2 separate regions of the Homo sapiens genome follow, and region 1 is linked to region 2. The links come from fine-mapping of genetic effects on gene expression. Tissue or cell type: atrial appendage. Region 2 holds a variant in brackets; the other region holds the start of a gene. All regions are shown on one strand. Distances are between the middles of the regions.

Region 1 (10,184 bases), 29 kb before region 2:
TTTCTCCCAAATTTTCTCATTCTCAATTTCTACTCCAAAGTTCCCATGTTAAAGGAACATCAAAATCCAATTAAACAGATGTCTCCAAAAGATGAGTATTTAAATAGATCATTACGGTGAGCCACTAGGGATGCTAATAGAGATCAAATGAAAGTCTGACTAAAAGGAAGAGTTCAATTCAAAGAGAAGAGAAGGAAGAATTTTGAAAAATTCTTTGAAAACTGAAGAAGAGACACATTGGATGATTTTCCTCTCTGTTTGCTGTTTGAGAGTCCCTTTTCCTCTTTGTTTGCTGTTTGAGAGTGCATTTTTAAGAATTATGATATCTACCAAGAAATAAAAGACACTATATCTTCTAGACAAGAATCTAGACTTGACATTCTCTGAGATTTAATTCCTAAACAAGTGAGGACATAAAGGGAGGTGACAAAGAAAGTTAAAAGAATAAAGAAAGCAGATTAAAACAGAAAAAAAGAGAAAAAATAGTATGTGCAAAAAGAGACAGAATAAAGCTTTTTTAGGAAGAAGAGAATATATTTTATTCATTGTTTCAGAACGTTCCAAAATGCTGTAAAATAAAATTGCACACAGCTGTTTGGTTTCCTCTCCAGAGGTCCTAATTGGAAAGATCTGAACATTACCTTCAGTGGCCAGAGAGCCTTGCTTTATTTCTTTTCTTAAGACAGGATCTCACTCTGTCACCCAGGCTAGAGCACAGTGGCATGATCATGGTTCACTGCAGCCTCGACCTCCCGGGCTCAAGTGATCCTCCCACCTCAGCCTCCTGAGTAGCCCTGAGTAGCTGGGACTACAGGCATGCACCACCATGTCCAGCACAGCTAATTTTTGCTGGTTTTTGTTTTGTTTGTTTGTTGTAGAGACGGGGTTTTGCTATGCTGTCCAGGCTGGTCCTGAACTCCTGGGCTCAAGTGACCCACCCGCCTCGGCCTCCCAAAGTGCTGCCTTGCTTTATTTTTGAGGGGACTCAATGCTACAGCATTGACATTTTGTCAATCAGAATTTTATGGTGGCAAGGGCGCTGAATTGGGTATAAGGAGACTCAGGTTTTGGTTCTAGCTTTGCCACTAAATACATAAATTAGTTCGAGAAAGTCAGTTAATCTCTGAACTGCAATTCCTTGTTTTTAAAATGAGTGGGGTTGAGATGGATACATTTCTTTCTAGTTCTTACTTATCAGATAATCTTGTCAAGTTCTTCCACCAAAACTGTACCAATCTCCTAGTCTTTAAACACTAAGAACACATCTAAATAGTTAAGAAAATAAGTAGAAGCAAAACAAATGCAACAAAGTCACTTAGAAGCTGGAACTTTTATATAAAATCAATATATGCTGAAATAATCAGGTTTTTCAAAACTTCTCAGTAATCGCTTGTTTTTTTTTTTCCTCCTGCTTAATAATTTCAGGTCTAGAGGTGCAACATTTTCTGAACTCTAAATCCAGCTTCCCATAGGGGAGAGTAAAGTCACAGCCAATTCCCCACCATATTCTCAGTTCTCTTAATGAAAAGGAAGAAATCCTATAATACATCTTCATTATGGTAGGCCAATATATGTGAAAGTTAAAGAAGAAGCATAGTCCATAAAGGCAGTGGTGACAGGGAATGGATATTGTAAATTCACTTTGTTTACATGCCCTAGAGATCATCAGTGACATCATTATAGAGTTATTCAGAATTATGGCATTATGGTTCATGTAAATTCTTTGGATATTATATGTCACAAAGGAAGCTCAAACCAGCCCAACAGGTAGCATTATCTTGCTGGGTAGCCACAGACTGATGTATGGTCCAGCTTTCAGGCCCAGGACTTTTTCCCAATGGAATCCTGAAGAATTATTCAGGTTAAACTTCTAATTGTCTAGAAGGCTTGTGCTACTCAATATGGTAGTCATCAGCCACACCGAACTCTTTAAATGTGAGTTCAAATTGAGATGTCTTAGAAGTGTAAGATACACACTTTGAAGATAGTACCAAAAAAAAAAAAAAAGAGGAATGTAGAATACATCATTCATGGTTTTACCCTTGATTAAATGTGGAAATAATATATATTTTATATTGATTAAGTTAGGTAAAATCTATTAAAATTAATTTCATCTGTTTTTTACTGTTTTATTGTGGCTGCTTGAAAATTTAAAATTAAATATTTGGTTCACATTTGGGGCTCAAATTATATTTCCAATGGGACAGTATGGGTCTATACCATTAATTCATTCAATACAGGGGCATTCCTGCCTGTTTTGCATGATGTTCTTAGCACCAAATTGCAATGATTAATAAATGTGCTGAATGCATTACTACTGAGTGCCAAACAGAGCGTGATAACCAAGGTCCACTCTCCCCCTGAACATTGCTGGAGACATCCTGAAATACCTTTACTCTCTTATTCTTGCACTTTTTTGTTCCAAACTGACCATTTCCCTCATGTTCTTTTTTGTATCAATTAAGTTGAGATTAATACTTCACTGTTTTCCAGTTTCAAATATGCTAATACACAAAGCTTCCTTATTTTAAGCTCCAGTCCCTTGAATAACTTGAATTCTCCTCAATCTCCTTAGTCAATTAATTGCATTTTCTTCCTTAGGGTGATATGCTGGATAGCCTCCTGTCAATTTAGCATCAACTTTAGCTTCTTCAAATGCAGAGACTACATTTCCCAGAATCTCCCTCCCGGCCTGTATATTTCCAAGTTGGAATCTAACAATGAGAGCCTTTCGCTCAAAGTTTAGAAGGAAGAAGAGAAGACCATTATATACCAGAGTCAGTTATAGAAAGATGCATCGGCATCAAAGCTGCTTCCAGATGAACTTCTTGAGGACTTACTGCATCGGTGTTGCTGACTGAGATAGCAGGTGCAGGAGTAAAGCTAATGAAGTTTAAATTTCAGGGCTCCTGTCTTGCACGGACCCTTTCGAAGACTCTGGGAGCAGTCCTAGCATTTTAGTATTCATAACTTTATTTTATCTCAAAAAGGGCTCTCTAAATTGTATTAGTTTTAAGCATCACAAAACCTGAATCCAGCCCTGAATTGCTGAGAACTTCCGAAAGATCTTGTGGCTCCAGTGGCTTCAGGAGAACTCCTGAGAACCACTGTCTTGGGGACTGGAGGCTGAGATCTTCAGTGGAGCTTCTCTGAGTTTCCCTCCTTCAGCCCTTCCAACAGTTGTGAGAGCTTTAACTTCCTCCATACTAGGAACAGAGTGGCATTTGTTTTTATGATCAAACCAATAATTGCTTAAAAATGACTGCTGTCAGCAATTAGATTATAATTCTTTGTTGACTTACTCTTAAACTTAGTAAATGATGATATTGTCTTACAATAGAAATGTTGATAGTGAAAAATAATTTTAACATCATATCAAAAGACCTTACAACCGGCTCCATTTTGGTCAACATTGGATACTCACAATGGTGTACTTTGTCCGGGACATAGCATTTGCTTAGCAAATATGAGTGTATGAATTAGTGAATGAAGGAATGGATAAATTTATGTGTATCTGTATCCAAGTTGCTTCCTACTTATGATTATTAAAACATAGATCATATTTGTTCTAATTTTCTTTAGATTTATTTAGTACAATACCAACAACTTCCAGCTGCTCACTGCTTTGTTTGGATGACAATGATGAGTAGTTTTGGAAGCCAGTCCAGCACAAATTCTAGGAAATCCCAGGGTGCATCTGTAATTATTTTAGGGTCTTCCAGAGGTTGGAGATCACACCTGTTAGTTATGAATTACTTCCAAGGATGAATTTTTTTAAAAGGCTTTACTGTTGGATCGGTTTGAAGAGTTCAATCTCCTTACTTTTTTTTCTTGTAATGTAATTCTGAAAGGTAAATAGCAATGATAATCATTTTGCTGAATAAGAAAGTCAATGGTCAGTCCTCACCAGAATAAATCATGTTTATAATTTAATTGTAATTAAGACCATAATCTTTCACATGAAGAAATAATTTAATCATTCTTAGAATTAGACCAGCATTTTAAAAGCATCTACATTTATATAACATCACTGTATGCTCCATACTGAAGTCAAACTAAAATATGAATCTAACATTTAAGAGTTTGTAATTTTTTAAATATTGATGAATTACATAGAAAAGCTCAAAATTACATAATTTGCTATTTTTTCAAATAACTTATTTTCTTTGTGTTTTTTGTGGATGAAATAAGAAAGTAAGAATTCAGGAAAGTTTCATAATAATTGATAGCAAATGTGCAGATAAGTAATTGAGTTTGGAAGAATTTGGTCTGTTTTCATTTTGTAAACATTCACTATGTCCAAACTCTGTGCTACGTACTGTACTAACCAGTGGAGATACAAAGATGAATTACACTTGATAGTTACCCTACTGATGTTAAGGTAGACATCGACATTACAGACATATTCCTGGAAAAAAATTTGGTAAATTGTTTGAGGGAACAGGCAATAACTTAAAAAACAAACAAAACAAAGGAGCTTTAGGTGGACCGGACACTGGAGTGACACATGATAATCTCATCTACTTTTCATGTCACCTTTGAGAACCTCTCATAAAGCAGGAAACCGACTCTGGGACATTGAATCTCTGTCCCAAGTTAACCTGGTTAATAAAAAACAAAGCCAGAATTTATACCTAGTCTGTCTGAACCCTAGGGGCCAAATAGTCCTGTATTCCAGACAGTCTTTGGGTACAGATCCCAGACCCTCTGGCCCTGTGTTTACTACCATCCAGCCCATTCTCAAAGGGCATGTGGGCTCTTCAACTTGGGAATAATGTTTATTGGGTGATCTGTTTCTCTATACCTCTCATCCTCGAGGCTAAGAGGGCTCAGTTCCTTAAGCTTTCACCAGCTGGCAGAGGCAACTGGAGCAGAAGGTAGGAAGTGGATTTATTCAGCTTTTTTTGTGTGTGTTCCTTATTAAATATATATTGACAGCTCCTTATTTGTTGCGGTTAAATTGGTGTAAACTCTGAATTTACATTAAATCTGTGAGGTCAATTTCCTCATCTGCGTGTTACAGATGAAATTATCCGTATATTACCTTTCAGGAGTAAGTTGCCAAATAGTCTTAAGGTTTTATTATTCCAGGTCTTAACAGCTGTGCTACGAATAGCTGCTGGTGCTTGATACATGTTGAATGACTGACTAGATGCAAAGGATTTAAAAACAAGTGTTTGAGAGGGTAAAGCGCAGAGTAGTTTGGGTGCCCTATTTTACCTCTCCTTGTCAGCTGCGGGTGTCAAGACGGGTTGAGGGAGGAGAGCCAATGCACCCCGCTCCAACAAAGGGTCAGCAGCGCGGGCTCCTCGGAACGCTCCAGAAGACAACCCGGGCGCCCCGTTCACCCTGGCTTTCCTTGGTTCTGCAACGCGACCCGCGCGCTCGCGTCCCGGCGGATTGGAGCCATAGAAAGCGCACCGGGCGCCTTTAAATGCTAATGAGAGTCCAGGGCCCGACTCCCGAGCCAAGTTTCCCCACCCTCTCCCCTCGCCCGCCCTTCCCTCCCGGGCCGGTGCGCCGCCTAGAAAAACTTGTGCGGGGCCATTTTTGGGGCAGTAAGATCGAGCGAGGAGCCCAAGAGAGAGCGCGCAGCACGAAGCTCGAGCCGCCTCCGCCGCGCGACCCCACCTCGGCCGCCGCCGCCTGCGCCGCGAGATCCGCCCCGGCCTCCCCGAGAGCGAGCCCCGGCCGCCGCGACCACCAGCCGCGCTAACCGCCGACCAACCGCCACCGAGGCGCCTGAGCGAGAGCAGAGGAGGAGGAGGCATGAGTGAGGCGGGCGAGGCCACCACCACCACCACCACCACCCTCCCGCAGGCTCCGACGGAGGCGGCCGCCGCGGCTCCCCAGGACCCCGCGCCCAAGAGCCCGGTGGGCAGCGGTGCGCCCCAGGCCGCGGCCCCGGCGCCCGCCGCCCACGTCGCAGGAAACCCCGGTGGGGACGCGGCCCCCGCAGCCACGGGCACCGCGGCCGCCGCCTCTTTAGCCACCGCCGCCGGCAGCGAAGACGCGGAGAAAAAAGTTCTCGGTGAGTCAGGCCAGGGAGGGCAGGGGCTGCCGTAGTGGGGCGGGCCCAGCCGGCCGCGGAGCACGTGTGGGCAGCTCGCGCTACATCTCCCACCCGGGCTGGAGACGCTGACAGCACAGGGTCCCCAGGGATCTCCGGGTCCCCAGGGGTCTCCGGGTCCCCAGCGCTGGCCGCCTCCCTTGCCGGCGCTCCCAGGTGAGCGCGCTGCGCCCTGCGCTCCTGGCGGCCGTGTGCATCTCCCTTCTGGTTCCGGGCCAGAAAGTTTAGGTCTTAACTTCTGTCTCCCAGACGGGCACTGTTGCGGATTCGCGTGGTGGAAAATGCCTGCGTTTGGAGAAGAAAGGAGAGGCAGTCTGGGAGAGGGGACCTTGGGTAGGGATGGATGTAGGGGAAGGACCGACACGTGGGCCTGGCGCTTTGGGGTCCTTGCTTGGGATCTGGGAAAGGAGAGCATTTCCTTTGGGGAAGAGGAGGGCGCTAGAAGGAGACGGGGAGGGAAAGATAGAAAAGCTTCTTGCCAGGAAGGGTCAGGTGTCTGTCCCTGACGCCCTTCCCACATGGGCATGGGAAAGACGCCATGCTCCTGTTGGCCACATGCCAGCAAAGAGATGTTGCAATCGTCTCCGGGAAACTTGGGTCTTAGTCCCACGTCTTCCTCCCCCTCTCTGTGCCCACGGCTGCAAACAGCCATTCAGTGTCCACCAATGGCTACACGCTTCCCTCTTCCCGGACTGTGGGAACGCACGTGGTGTAGCAGCTGAAAAAACTTTGTCGGAAGTGGGGGTATGACGTTAGTTCAAAACATTGTTACCTTGGCACTTGTAACGTAGGAAGGGAAACAGGAAGATGAAATGTTGAGATTTGGGGGGGCAGTGGATGGAAAGGGTTTCTGTGATGGTTGTTGGTTTAGTCACATAACAAGCGTTCTTTTCGTAAGTAACGCCCCTGTGTGAGTTCTTAAACGCTTGCAAAGCAGGTGGGTGGTGAATAACCTCCCTAAAGGGTGTGTGTCCATATCGTTCGCTCTTATAAACAGGAACGTTAACAGATGGTGTAGGATGCTTCGGAGACCTCTTCACTATTTGGGGTGGGGCATGTTTGTCTCATCTCTCTGAGCCCTACTTCCCCTTTGGGAAGAAAGTTGAGGGAGCAATGTGAGAGAAGTGTATTCAATATTCCCCACCTTGAGAGGACTATTTTCTTGTTTTTTTTTTCTAGGGCTTTTACTAAGTCCCTACCAAACAACATGCTAATTGTAACCTGTGTAGGTTAAGAAACAAAATAGGCCTGATTTTGCTGGACTAAAAGTTGCTTAAATCTAGTCAGTAGTACATTGTGATGTTGTTTCTAGCAAATATTTCTTGGAACACTTTCTGCCAGATGTCTGAGAGAGAAAACCTTGTGTTCTCCAAAGCAGTGTTAGGATAACATTGTTAATGATACCTTATTTTGTAGAAAGCTTTTGCGGTTTTTCACTTAATCCTGTACTGTTCTGAGATTGGGAAAGCAGATACTATCTTTAAAGATGAAGGAAACAGATAAATGAAGGTTAATTTCCTCAAGCAACTGCCTCTGCAGATCCCTGGTGATGAGTCTGATGCCTTTTATCTTTCCACTCTTACTGCGTCTCTCTAAAAATGAAGGACAGCCCTTTCTACGTGACACCTCAACACTGTTTGTCTCTGTCTAGTGTGTCCTGCCATCCCCTTTCCTTTGCCAAGCAAACACATAGATGCCTAAGATGTACTAGGCACAATGCTGACTAAAATGGATATGTTCTAGTATTTGCAAATGGGCCTTCACTTGAGTTTATAAGCACATAGGCCAGGAAAAATAGTTTTCATGAGTGCAAAAAAATTTTCCTTCTGATAAATGTTATGGAAATCTATGGTCTTCCTCCCCAACCCTTCCCCTTAGTGTATATGAAGTGGGTTTATGGTTTAAAGCAAGACGTGGGAATGAATTTGATCATAAGAAGTCCTTGGAGAAGTATTTGCGGAATTACGAAACTTTTTTAAACTACATTGGAGAGTAAAAATAACCTTCAGCTTGGATTGAGGTTAGACCTGAGAATTATTTATCATCTTTTTCCTTTATTATTAGTATTGTCATTTTAATCAAGATTATTCCTTCAACAATGCTAGATATTAAAAACAGTTCCAGTCTTTATATTTTCCCAGGTAATTAATTTTTTGGGCAAATGAAAAGAGGCACTAAACGCATATTATTTGGAATATTGCCTGACTTAAATGCATATAATGTATCAAAAACAGGCCTCTACTGTGTACATTTGCATCGAAAACATCAACTGTTTTTTTCTCCTTTGCCTTGCTGCTCCAATCAGAGTGGCCTCAAACGTAAGATGGCCTGGGTTTGATCTCTCCTTTGGAGAGATGAGAGATCTTTGGAATTAAAGCTGGAGAATGCCTCATCAGTGTAGACTGCATAACTTTGGAGATATAAAGACATGTTTTTTTTGTTTTGGATTTTCTTTCCCCCAACAAAGAGAGCTAAAGTATTTTCCCAAGTGTATCAGTCTAGCAAACTTCAGAACTACCCCTGCCTACAACAGAGCAAGTCTTAATTACTATTTTAGTTTTGAATTTAAAAGTGAAGCCTTATTGTTTATCCTTGGAAATTATAAACTTTGTATCTTATGAAAAGACAGTATGGATTGATGTTAATAATTACTTTCATTCTCTACTGAGGCTTTTTTCTTTATTTTTTCTTTAAGGTAATCTATTATCAGGTTTCCTGTTTCATTGAGTCTTTATAATTGCTTTTTGCACTTCCTGAATTGAGACAGGGGCATTTCCTAGAAGTACTGAATTTGTCATTCATAATTGATTCCAAAGATCATATTTGAAATAGTTGAGATAAATATAAACCTACAAAATACAAGTTACATGAAGTTTTATTTTGTTTAGATTCCTTCTCTCAATTCTGCTAAAATCAGGCATTGTAGAGAAGTGGTCCTGCTCATGAGGTAGAGACAACCATTATGGTAAAGAGGGGGATTTTATGGAAAAATGCTTAAGTTTGATTCGCAAAACTGTAGAGAGCAAGGTAAACAAAGAAACAAGCCCAAATTCATCATGTGATTTGAAAAGACCTGTTATATCACGTCTCAGAGTGGTAAGTACAGAACTGGATTGAGACAGCAGCAGTTCTATAATTATTCTTGACTCCTCTGATGAGCTCCCACTTGGCGACTGGACAAGTTGCTTTACGTCTTTGTAGATTGCCTGTTAACAAGGAGCCACCTTGTTTCTCATTAAAGTTTGCCTAATATTTCCAAGTATGAAAGTGATGTGTTAAGGTCTTTCACTCTTTTATTGTAGCTCCTATTTTGAACTTATAAAATTTGTCTAGGTTAAAACTTGGAACATTCATCTTGAACATTCTTTTTTTCCTTCAGTGTTTCTCAATTTTAATGATTACAGAATTGTATAGACTTATAACCACTCCTTATCTTGCGAGTTTCCTGAAAAGTTGAATAAGGAAGAAAGGTTTAGTCTTCTGAAAAGTATTTCCTTATGAGATCTTGGCTTGCTCCATTTTCTTTTTCTAAAGTATTTTGGAATTAAGCTTTTAATGGTTTCTTTAGGTATGTTTAGGCTTTGTCTAATGTTATCAAGATCTTAGTGATATGAGCTATATCTCTCTGTAGGTCAGATACTAATTTATCTGCTTAATCCTATTTTAGCCACCAAAGTCCTTGGCACTGTCAAATGGTTCAACGTCAGAAATGGATATGGATTTATAAATCGGTATGTGTGTGTGTATATTTGCATGTTTTAAGTTTATACTTACATTGTGGCACCAGGAGTTATAAATCCCTTAGCCTTCATTAATGGCTTATATAAATTTTTTAGGTTTCTAAGCACTGTAAATATTCTCATTTCTAAGCTACTGGTTGTTAAATATTACTTAAAATACATTTCCAGGACACTAATAAATAACTTATTTCATAAAATCTAGTCATTAAGGAAGAAAAGGAGGGGGAGATAAAATCAGAAATGGGAAGGGCCTTAGGATAAATGAGACCATATCCATAATTTCACAGATGGAGAAACGGAGTCTTACACTGGTTAAGCAGCTTTCCTAAGGTCACCCAACTAGTGAGTCATTGAGCTGGATCTTTAACTCACTT
Region 2 (11,011 bases):
GTTATTTTCTTGTCATTTTCTACTTTTTTCTGTCTTTTAAAGGTCTTGGACATTTTATTTACATAGAATTATAGCCAGAAAGATCAACTCAATTATAAATTCTGGGTTTGTTTTTTTTTAACCTATAACCCTTTTAACTGAGACTTTAGTTCTTATACTTCTTGGTTATCACCCTTTCCATTAGCTTTTAGTTAAGAGAGAGGTTGTAAACTCAGTGTCAATGCTATTTTTCAAAAATTGTTAAAATTTCATCAATGAAGTTTTGGGATTATTATAAGTTCTTGTGTCTTAAGGCCATCTGCTTTTATATCCAGTGATGTGGGATTTTAATCAGCCATTAATTAGGTAAGCATTCACTTTGAGGACAATATTCTGTTTTATCTTGGGTAGCATGGACAGTTTGTCACAGAAATAAGTTCCCTATTCAAACTTGGAATTAGCTGATTCAGAGTAACATATTAATAATATAAAAATGGCCATACCCTTTTATGGCGTAACATTATTTCTAGGTATTGTTTCTAAGGAAATAATTTTAAATATTGGGAAAAAATATTTTTACAATTTACAGTCTGTCTGACATTTGGTAAATAGCTAATTGTGATATATTCATATTAGGAGATAGGGTGCAGCCACTAAAATGATTTTGAGTATTGTTCATTAGTAATGGTAATTTTCTTTTATACAATTTTATAAAATTTTTGCTCTTATGTACTGACTTTTCTGGTTTATAAAAATACTTTATTAAAAAGTGAGAGTTTCCATTTAATTAACATATAGCTTACAGATCTATACAAGATGTGATTGTATTTAGAGCATTTGAAGTACTCTTTTTCTAATTATATGAAAAGCATATAATTTCTGCCTTTTTATTCTTTAACTCATGGTTACTTTGTCACTCTTTATAAGTTTGATTTTAATTTTTCCCAGGTGACCTAAAGAATTAATGACCATTCAGAAATAAAGCAAAAAGCAGGCCACAACCTTAACCAACACCAAAGAAACATCCAAGCAATAAAGTGGAAGACTAACCAAGATTTGGACATTGGAATGTTTACTGTTATTCTTTAAGAAACAACTACAAAAAGAAAATGTCAACAAATTTTTCCAGCAAGCTGAGAACCTGGGAATTCCTGCACGGAAGACAAGAGAGTAGCCTCTCCAGTTTCAGCAACCGCTAGGTTTCTATTTTTTTTCCTGGTTTTTACTGTTTTGGTAATATATATATTGAAACAAGAAATATTAATACCACATGGGGAGAACCCCAACCAAAGAAATCTGAAATATATAGTAAATGCTTTTTTTTCCGTTTTTGTTCATTTTGGATGCTGGTGCTAAACCTCCAAGTGTCATGATTTAAAAAAAAAAAAAATTTATGTCCTTCTTATTTATTTCTAGGATGAGGGGAGGATAACATTTTTGCTTTCTTATGTGACTCTCTTTGAAAATGTGCAGTAAGAAATTCCTCAAAAATAAAATTTTTACCCTTCAGAGGACAGAATGTTTAATGGGAGTGTATTTTTGCCGACCTTAGCGTGTGTTTGTCTTCTCCACCACTTGATTTACTTGACTTGATTAATAGTAAATTCAAAGCCAAATGTAAAGTTAAGTTAATGCTGTTTCACAAATTTAGGCATATAAGCTTGAGATGATAAAAAATTGGATTCCTGTTGAAATGTACAGCTGGAAATTGACAAGTTCATGTCTGAGTTCAGTAGTAGGCATGAATTATTTGGTACTGTCTCTTTTTGAGTAATCTTCATTCAGTGAGGTGACGTGATGACCTTTAGATTAACGAAGGAGTTAATAGTTCTAACATCCTTCAACTTCCAGCCTGAGGTTTTTACCAGTAACTGCTGTGTTGTAGGTATACAAGGGAGCTCTTTACAACTACATTTCTCCCCCTCCCAGCCATGGTGCCCCTAAGTTGAGAAAAACTATCGCAGCTGTCAGTGCCGTATAGTTACTTTTCAGAACTGCTGCAGCAGTACATATCCAGTGTAGGTTTGTGCTAAACATTATTCTAGTGGCTAGGATGGAACAAACCAACAAAATACCATTGTTTCAATGACCAGGTACATACAGAAAATAAACAAGTATGGAATTTAATTTAGATGGCAATAAGTGCTGTTAAGAAACATAAAACATGGTAGGAGGACAGGGACTGGCATAATCATAGGGGATATGTTGATTTTAAATAGTGGGGAGGGTCTCCTATTTAAATGGAGTCCTAAGGTGAAGGGGCATTAAACATTTGAGTATCTGCAGGGAAGAGCATTGCAGGTGGAGGGAGCATTCTTGGCCTAATAAATGGCAAGCAGGTGAATGTGAACTGTTCAAGAACCTTGTATTATCTTGCAAGTTAAAAGGGTTGGTAAAAATTGGTAATAGGCCAAGGCAAAAAAAAAATCAACTATTTTATTCTATTAAAAAAGGCTCCCATCTTGGTTCCAGTTTCCTCCAGGCAACCAGTTAGCATATCTTAAAAATAGACCCATTTCACATATTTCATGTGTGTGAGTCTCTGTGTGTGTGTGTGTGTGTGTGTGTATGTGTGTGTGTGATTGGCCGACTAATGCAAATTTGAGAAGAGGAAATGAGCTTAAATTGTGCTTATGTTAACAACTTAAAAACAATCATTAGACATATCCATGTTTAAAATTCTATGGATAGTTCAACTATACTATTTAGCCAGTCTTCTTTTTCCTAACTTCCCCTTCTCTCTTCCTGCTCACTTTAAAGCTATTCTAGTATAGAATATTTCAAACATACTTTTTAAAATGTTTTTAAAATGTACGTATACTTTTTGGCACTGATTTTCTTTTTCACCTAATATTTTTCCTATAGAGTCCTCTCATCATTTGTACTGACTATATAACATTCCATTACATAGCTATCCATAATTGTACTAGCCTTCTATCATGGGATATTGAGGGTATCTTAATTGCCATTGCAAACATTTTGCTTGATATAATCCCAACATCCTTACTTCTAAATACTGTCATCTGTTTCAGGATGGTAGCTATTCTATTTCTGGGAAAAAATAAAATAAAATGGAATGATGAATGCAGAGTTGGGGAAAACACACTGGTTGTAGGTACAGAAATAACACAAATTGGATGTGATGTGAGGATGGGCCAAAAGTATGTTATTTTACTGGTGAGGGACCTTGGATTGCTTTATCAAGAAATACAGGCTACCGGGGTGAGACCACAGCCAGAAATTAACTAGAAGGCTATCTGTCATACGGCAATCACAACTTAACTCTGTGGTTGTTCATATTTGATGGCACTGCACCTATCAGAAAATAGCACTATGCAAATCAGTATTTGCCTCCTACTATGTGTCAAGAGTGATGGGTGCTTTCAGATCACAAGTAAGTCAGCTGTAACTGTTATAAGGGCTCTTGTGTTTATTGCAAAGATGCAAGTTTTGAAAGCTTTTTGCTCTTAGTGGAGTGGATAAATGTGTTTATAAAGACATGTTTTGAGATTTTAAAGAAAAAATTTAGAGCTAAATTAGATTGAAGCTAGTTTCAGTTAAAAAATGGAAAAGAATCTCAAGATTGATTTTGTATATTATGGCATAAGCATTTTGTTTAATAAGAAAAAGTCTAGAAAGGATACAGGTGCTGATATAAATCTCTGGAAATGTGATCTTGTGCAGTAGCAGAAATAAGAATTCATCAGCTTTGTGATTTTCCCAAAATGCTTTGTGAAAGCATTTCATTTTAACTGATGAGCTAGCTCCAGAATCACCCAGGCTTTCAGAATGGGGATGGTAAGCTCTAATGAATGATCCACACTGGTCAAATAACACGGGGAGCTTAGTTTGCAGATCCCTCCCTATGCCTCTAGTTTGGACAGTATTCTAGTAAAAGGGGTATAGAATAGAGGCATCTGATAAAAGAGACTAGAAATCACCACTTTGTTATTGCCATAGTATTGTTCTTTTATGCATTGATCTCATTGTCAAATTCATGAAGGCTTGCACATAAGGGGTTCCAGGCAACGCCTGTGCCTGTCACATGGACTTGGCACCACTGGTGAAAACTCCCTCTTATCAGTTGAGAACAGAATTTCCCGAGTAATAAAAATTGTGGGAAGAAGTGTGTGTGTGTGTGTGTGTGTGTGTGTGTGTGTGTGTGTTGTTATTTTAAAAAGTTCCTAAGATGTTTTCCAGAATGGCTGTTAAGGGCCAAATTGTGTCCCCCTAAAACTCAAATGTTGAAGTCCTAACCTCCAGTACCTCAGAATGTAACCATATTGGGAGATAAGTTGTTTTAAGGGGTGATAGATGAGTTTAAAATAAGTCCATTTTAGGGTGAGGTCTAATCCAATATGACTGGTGTTCTTGTGAGGAGCAACACCAGAGACATGCGTGCACAGGGGGGTGGCCATTTGAAGAAGTTGCAAGAGGAAGGAAGGCCATCTGCAAGCCACGGAGAGGCCTCAGTGAACCAAACCTGCCAGCACCTTGATCTTGGACTTCCAACCTCCAGACCTGAGAAAAGGAATTTCTGTCGTGTAAGCCACTAATCTGTGGTATTTTCTTACGGCAGCCCTAGCAAACTACTACAGAGGCTATGTCACTTTACGTTCATGGCAGCAGCGTATAAGACCTGATTTCTTAACATCTTCATCAGCATTTGGTATTATTACCGTTATTTGTTTAACTTTTATAGGTGAGGTGATATTTATTGTGGCTTTAATTTGCATTTCCCTAATAGCTATATATTTTCATGTGCTTATTTACCATCTCTGTATCATTGGTGAAATGTCTTTTCATGTCTTTCATCAATTTTCTGATTGGGCTGTTTGGTTTTTGTTACTGTTTGAATTTTGGGAGTTCTTTGTATAATCTAGATATGAGTTCTTTGTCAAGGATGTGGTTTGTAAACATTTTTCTCCCAGTTTGTAGCTTGTCTTGACTTTTTTTTTTTTTTTCTTTCTTTCTGAGACAGAGTCTCACTTTGTTGCCAGGCTGGAGTACAGTGGTGCAATCTTGGCTCACTGCAGCTGCCGCCTCCCAGGTTCAAGCGATTCTTCTGCCTCAGCCTCCCATAGCTGGGATTACAGGCACATGCCACCACACCTGGCTAATTTTTGTATTTTTAGTAGAGCCTGGGTTTCACCATATTGGCCCGGATTGTCTCTCTCTCTTGAACTTGTGATCCACCCACCTTGGCCACCCAAAGTGCTGGGGATTACAGGTGTGAGAACCATGCCTGGCCGTCTTTACCCTTTTAACAGTGTCTTGTGCAGAACAAAACTTTTTAATTTTGGTGAACTCCAGTTTATTGTTTTTGTTTTTTGTTTTTGTTTTTTCCTTTATTGATTGTGCTTTTGGTGTTATTTATGTCTAAGAACTCTTTACCTAGCCTTGGTCTTAAAGATATTCTTCCATGTTTTTCTCCATCTTTGTGTCTAAGATAGGAAGTTTAAGTTGTTTTCACCTATGTCT[G/A]TCTAGTTGTCCCAGCACCATTTGTTGAAAAGACTGTCTTAGTTGAATAGCTTTTCTATACCATTGCCAAAGTCCACTTGGCTCTGCTTGTGTGGGTCTTTTTCTAGGGTCTCTAATCTGTTCCACTGGTCTTGTTTGTTATCTCTCTGCCAATAACACATTGCCATAATTACATAAATCTTAGTATCAGGTACAGTGATTCTTCCCACTTTATTCTTTTTCACAATTGTTTTAGCTATTCTAGTTCTTTTGCCTTCCTGTGTACATTCTAGAATAAGCTAATCTGTTTCTAAAAAAAAAACCTTGCTTGGATTTTGATACAGAATGTGTTAAGCCCTTGATTAGTCTGGAGAGAATTGATGTTGAGTCTTCCAATCCATGAACACGTACATCTCTCTATTTATTCAAATCTTTGATTTCTTTCATCTGCATTTTACTTTTCAGCATATAAGTTCTGTACATATTTAATTAGGCTTATACCCAAGTATTTCATTTTCAGTGATTGCAAGTGGTACTATAAGCTTTCACTGTTCATAACTAGTGTATAGAAATAGAATGGATTTGTATATGTTGACCTTTTATGCTACAAATTCACTGAACTTACAGTTTTAGGAAATGTTTTGGTAGATTATGTTATCTGCAAGTAGGCACAGTTTTATTTTTTCCATTCTAATCTGTATGCCATTTATTCATTTATTTTCTGTTCTTTATTTTTATTATTTATTTATTTATTTATTTAGAGACGGAGTCTTGCTCTGTCACCCGGGCTGGGGTGCAGTGGCGCGATCTCGGCTCACTGCAAGCACCGCCTCACGGATTCACGCCATTCTCCTGCCTCAGCCTCCCGAATAGCTGGGACTACCGGCGCCCGCCACCACGCCCAGCTAATTTTTTTGTATTTTTAGTAGAGACAGGGTTTCACCGTGTTAGCCAGGATGGTCTCAATCTCCTGACCTTGTGATCCGCCCGCCTCGGCCTTCCAAAGTGCTGGGATTACAGGCGTGAGCCACCGCGCCGGGCCTATTTTCTGTTCTTACTGTGCTGACTGGTGAGGACATTCAGTGTTATATTAACTGAGAATAGTAGAGTGGATATTCTTGCCTTTTTCCCAATATTAGGGAGAAAGCATTCAGCCTTTCACCATTAAGTATCACGTTAGCTGTAGGTATTTTTGTAGATCTTCTTTATCAGGTTCAGGAAGATCCTCTCTATTTTCTAGTTTGCTGAGAGTTTTTATCATGGATGAGTATTGGATTTTGGCAAATGCTTTTCCTGCCTCAGTTGATATGATCGTATGATTTTTCCTCTTTAGCTTGTTAATATGGTGGGTTATATTGATTTTTAAATATTGAACCAGCCTAGCATTCCCTGAATAAATGCACTTAGTCATGTTGTATAATGTTAAATATATTATTGGATTTAACTTGCTAATATTTTATTGAAGTTTTGTACTCCTCTGTGCATGAGGGATATTGGTGTGTAGTTTTTCTTTTTTCTGTACTGTCTTTGTCTGGTTTTGGTATCACAGTTAGCATTAGCCTTATAAAATGAGATGGAAAGTGTTCCTTCCTCTTCTGTTTTTTGGAAGAGATTATGTATAATTGATGTTAAATTTTCTTTAAATGTTTGGTAGCATCTGAGCATAGAGTATTTTTTTTGAGAATTTTTAAACTACAAATTTAACAATTATAGGTCTATTCAAATTATCTATTTTATATTGGGTGAGTTTTGGTAGTTTATGCTTTTTAAGGAATTCATTGTCTCTAAATTATTACCACATTTGTGTATGAAGAGTTATAATGATTTTTTAGATTTTATTTTTAAGTCTTTGGGGATGGTAGTAAAATCTCTGTTTCACTACTGATATTTGTAATTTGCATCATTTTTTTCTTTGTCAGTCTCACAAGAGGTTTTCAATTTCATCAAAATTTTCAAAGAACCAGCTTTTTGTTTTATTGATTTTTCTCTGGTTTTCTGTTTTGCACTTTATTGACATCTGCTCTTTATTATTTCTTTTTTCCTGCTTGTTTTAGGTTTATTTTGTCCTTTTTCTGATTCTTAAGATTGGAGCTCAGATTATTTATTTTTGACTTTTTTCCTATTCTAATATAAACACTTATGCTATAAATTTCCTTCTCAGCATGGCATTAATTGTGCCCACAGATTTCAAATGTTGTATTCATATTTTCATACAGTTTAATGTATTTTAAAATTTATCTTGAAACGTCTTCATTGACCCATTAAGAAGTACGGTGTTTAATTTCAAATGCTTGTTGGTTTTTCTGTTATTCTGGTATTAATTTCTAATTTTATTTCATCATAATCAGGGAACACACACTGTATCATTTTGATTATTTTAATTTGTTGAGTTTTATTTGGTTTACGGTCCAGGATATGGTCTGTCTTAGTGAATGTTCCATGGGCTCTAAAAAATAATTCTGCTATTGTTTAGTGGTTTTGGTGATATTATTCTTTATCCTTGCACCAATAGAAAGACCATCTAATCATGTAATTTCTGCTCTGTGAACATGATAACTGCTGAGTTTTGGGAGAGACAAGGGAACCTGGGGCCATATGCTGACTGAGGTTGCCAAAAGAACTGGTTTGAACCAGCCAATTAAAGCACCTCCCCCATTTTGAAACTTGCCTTGCGGACTCAAGTAGATCTAACCAAAACCTGTCTTGACTACTCCAGAAGTCAGAGAAATTGGGTGGGGCAAAGTGAAAGATTATAAAAATTTTGTGAAAAATGTTGAGAAGCATGGTATGAAGTTACCTTTAAAGTCTCTTGCATAAATGAACAACACATTAAATACCAATGTTCTCAACATTGTTTTAGGCCTCCACAACAATCCTTGCTAGTCACTTTTGTTGCCATTTAGGAAATGTGAATATTGTGGATGCTGGTTACACAAATGTATTATAAGACTGAAATTCACAGAAAGTAGGCTGGATGGAGAACAAGCTCGGGAGTTATAATATCTAGGTTCAGGTCTAAAGCCCTCATCATCTATAACCTCAGGCTGCTCACTCCAGAACGTGGTTTCAACATATTTGAAAGGAAAAATGTAGTTTTCAACTAAAGGTAAAGGGGAAGACATTTCAGATTATCCCAGCTCTCCCTCAAGTAGAATATGCCATTGTCTTTTTGTGGATGGCTCTGTCCTGGTCTCATCTAGGGATTATGTTTCACTGCCTGAGACATGTAATCTATACCTCTACATAATTGTAGGACAAAGGATAGTGGAGGTCTCGGCCCATGTAGAGTAATCCAAGTGTGTGCCAATGACATTGTATCATAAGTATAGCCAACCAGAATAGGTAAGAGAGAAGCTAAACAAAGATCAAATACGTTGCTCGTTCTGGTCATTTAGTTTCTATTTAGAAAAGTGTATTTAAACTGTGGTATTAGATCGTTTTTGACAAGTACAGTTTGAGATAACCCTGATGATGTTGTGAAAGTAAAGTGTGCTGATAATGACTTTCCTTATTATTCTTATTCCTGAAGTCATTTTCTTGACAGACTCAGAACTTTCAGACCCTTTCCTCCTACTTTTTCTGCTTAGTGCTTCTCCTTTTTCTTTTTAAGGTTAAATTTTAAGGTTAAATGACTGCTGATGGCATGTGCAATTGTTAATCATTTCCATCATCCCCAACAAGCAGCATTTGGTAGGTATTGAGGCCTTCCTTTATGAAGTTCGTTGTAGTTGGGAAGGTTTTGATGGTTAATTTTGTGTGTCAACTTGACTGGCCACAGGGTACCCAGATTAAACACTATTTTGAGGTGTGCCTGTGAGAGTGTTTCCAGAAGAGATTAGCATTTGAACCTGTAGATTCAGTAAATTGATTGTCCTTCACAGTGTGTGTGGGCATCACCTAATCCATTGAAGCCATGAATAGAGCAAAAGGCAGATGAAGGAGGAATTTGCCCCTTTTTCCCTGCCTCACCACTTGAACTGGAACATGTCGTCTCATCTTCTCTTGCCTGAGACTGGTATTTACACCATTGGCTCCTCTGACTCTCAGGCCTTTGGACTCAGACTGAATTAAACCACTGGCATCTCTGGAACTCCAGCTTACAGACAGCAAGCAGTTCTCAGCCTCTATAATGAGCCAATTCCTTATAATAAACCTTTTACATACATCATATATATACATCATATACACACACATCATATATATACACATATATACATCGTATATCATATATGTGAGATATATATATGTGTGTATATATCTCATATATATATATATATATATATATATATATGCTACTGGTTCTGATTCTCTGGAGAACCCCGACTAATAGAGATTTTGGTAGTGAGAGTGCTTCTAGAGGAATAGAATTTTAAGGATGAGTTTTCAGAATTCCTTCTGGAGTTCCCAGAATTGACTCTCTAATCTGATTAGATTTAAAGATGCTAATGACTACTTCCAGTAGTAAATAAAGCATTGATAGTGTATGACATGAACTGTTTATGGAGATATGCAAAATTTCTCCACTGGGTACTCCTAGTCCACCACTTACAAGGAAGCAAGGAGCTAAGTGACTATGTATATGATACTTTCAATCATTTTTGGAAAACTAAGGAAAATAATGATGTTAGTTGGTTGTTCCTATGTTTCTAGACAGAGTAGTGAAAGAAAAGGATGAGCTCAGGGATATGAAATCTCAGCTTAAGCACTACATAACTGTCTCAAGAGCTTCTATGTTTGACCTGAAGGAGACTCTTACCTCCTGTAGCTGTACGGCTGAAATTGCTGAAAATCGAAGGCAGAACCTCATCCTGTGACTGGCCGAGTACACTGCAAGTTGAATTCCCAGCTTTGCATGGTATGTTGTATTGAAGTGAGGGCATTAAATGAAAAAGCATGGGATCCTATACATTGGGATGTGGCTGTGTGGCAAGACCCTGATGAAGCTGGGGACATTGAGTCCCTCATTCTTATAGCATTCTTTACAAGTAGAAGAGGTCTTCCTAGCCCCCACAGAAGTGGTCCCCTCAACTCCAGAAGCAGCAGCCTCCCCATGCTCAATACAGTGGCATCCTCACCCCCAGTGGTATTAACCCTGAATTGCCTGAGAAAATAGTAATTGCCTTCCCTGAGACAGTGGCCCAGTGAAACAATACTGATTCTCAGGACCCACCCTCAACACCCTTATTTTCTTCTAGACCTACAACTAGACTCAAGTCCCAGCAGGCCCCTAAGGGTGAGGTAGAAAGTATGACCCATGAGGAGGTGCACTACACTCCAAATGAGCTACTTGAGTTTTCTAATTCATACACACAGAAATCCAGGGGACATGTGTGGGAATGGATACTAAGAGTATAGGGTGATAATGGAAGGAACATAAAATTGGATCAAGCTGAATTTATTGACATGGGCTCACTAAGCAGAGTTTCTGCATTTAATGTTGCAGCTCAACTCAAGGAGTTAGAATGAGCTCTAACAATTAATTTGATTGTTTGACTAAAACATTAATCAAAAGGTGGTTCACCATAAGTGAATTGGAAATACCAAAAATGCCTTGGTTTAATGTAGAGGAAGA

Evidence for each region. PIP is the estimated chance that this variant, and not a neighbour inherited with it, causes the effect. A credible set is the group of variants that fine-mapping cannot tell apart.
Region 1: it holds the start of YBX3, and the variant in region 2 is the best candidate, but not a certain one, in a credible set for the expression of YBX3 in atrial appendage (GTEx, PIP 0.88).

The regions. Positions count from the first base shown.
Region 1 is chr12:10,718,697-10,728,880 of GRCh38, reverse strand. YBX3 (Y-box binding protein 3) reads left to right here and starts at 5,558. Exons shown (of 10, transcript NM_003651.5): 1 at 5,558-6,031; 2 at 9,738-9,801. The coding sequence starts at 5,770. It overlaps LOC124902876, which reads right to left and starts at 5,829. Exons shown (of 2, transcript XM_047429946.1): 1 at 5,221-5,829; 2 at 3,563-3,844. The coding sequence starts at 5,771. The coding sequence ends at 3,775. LOC112268104 (a long non-coding RNA gene) reads left to right here. Exons shown (of 4, transcript XR_002957443.2): 4 at 2,602-2,689. RefSeq lists silencers at 5,443-5,662, 5,683-5,782, 5,913-6,312.
Region 2 is chr12:10,689,571-10,700,581 of GRCh38, reverse strand. It overlaps YBX3 (Y-box binding protein 3), which reads left to right. Exons shown (of 10, transcript NM_003651.5): 10 at 928-1,493. Among named protein-coding and RNA genes, the nearest start is that of STYK1, 21 kb to the right of the region's middle. The variant G/A (reference allele first, on the strand shown) is at 5,461.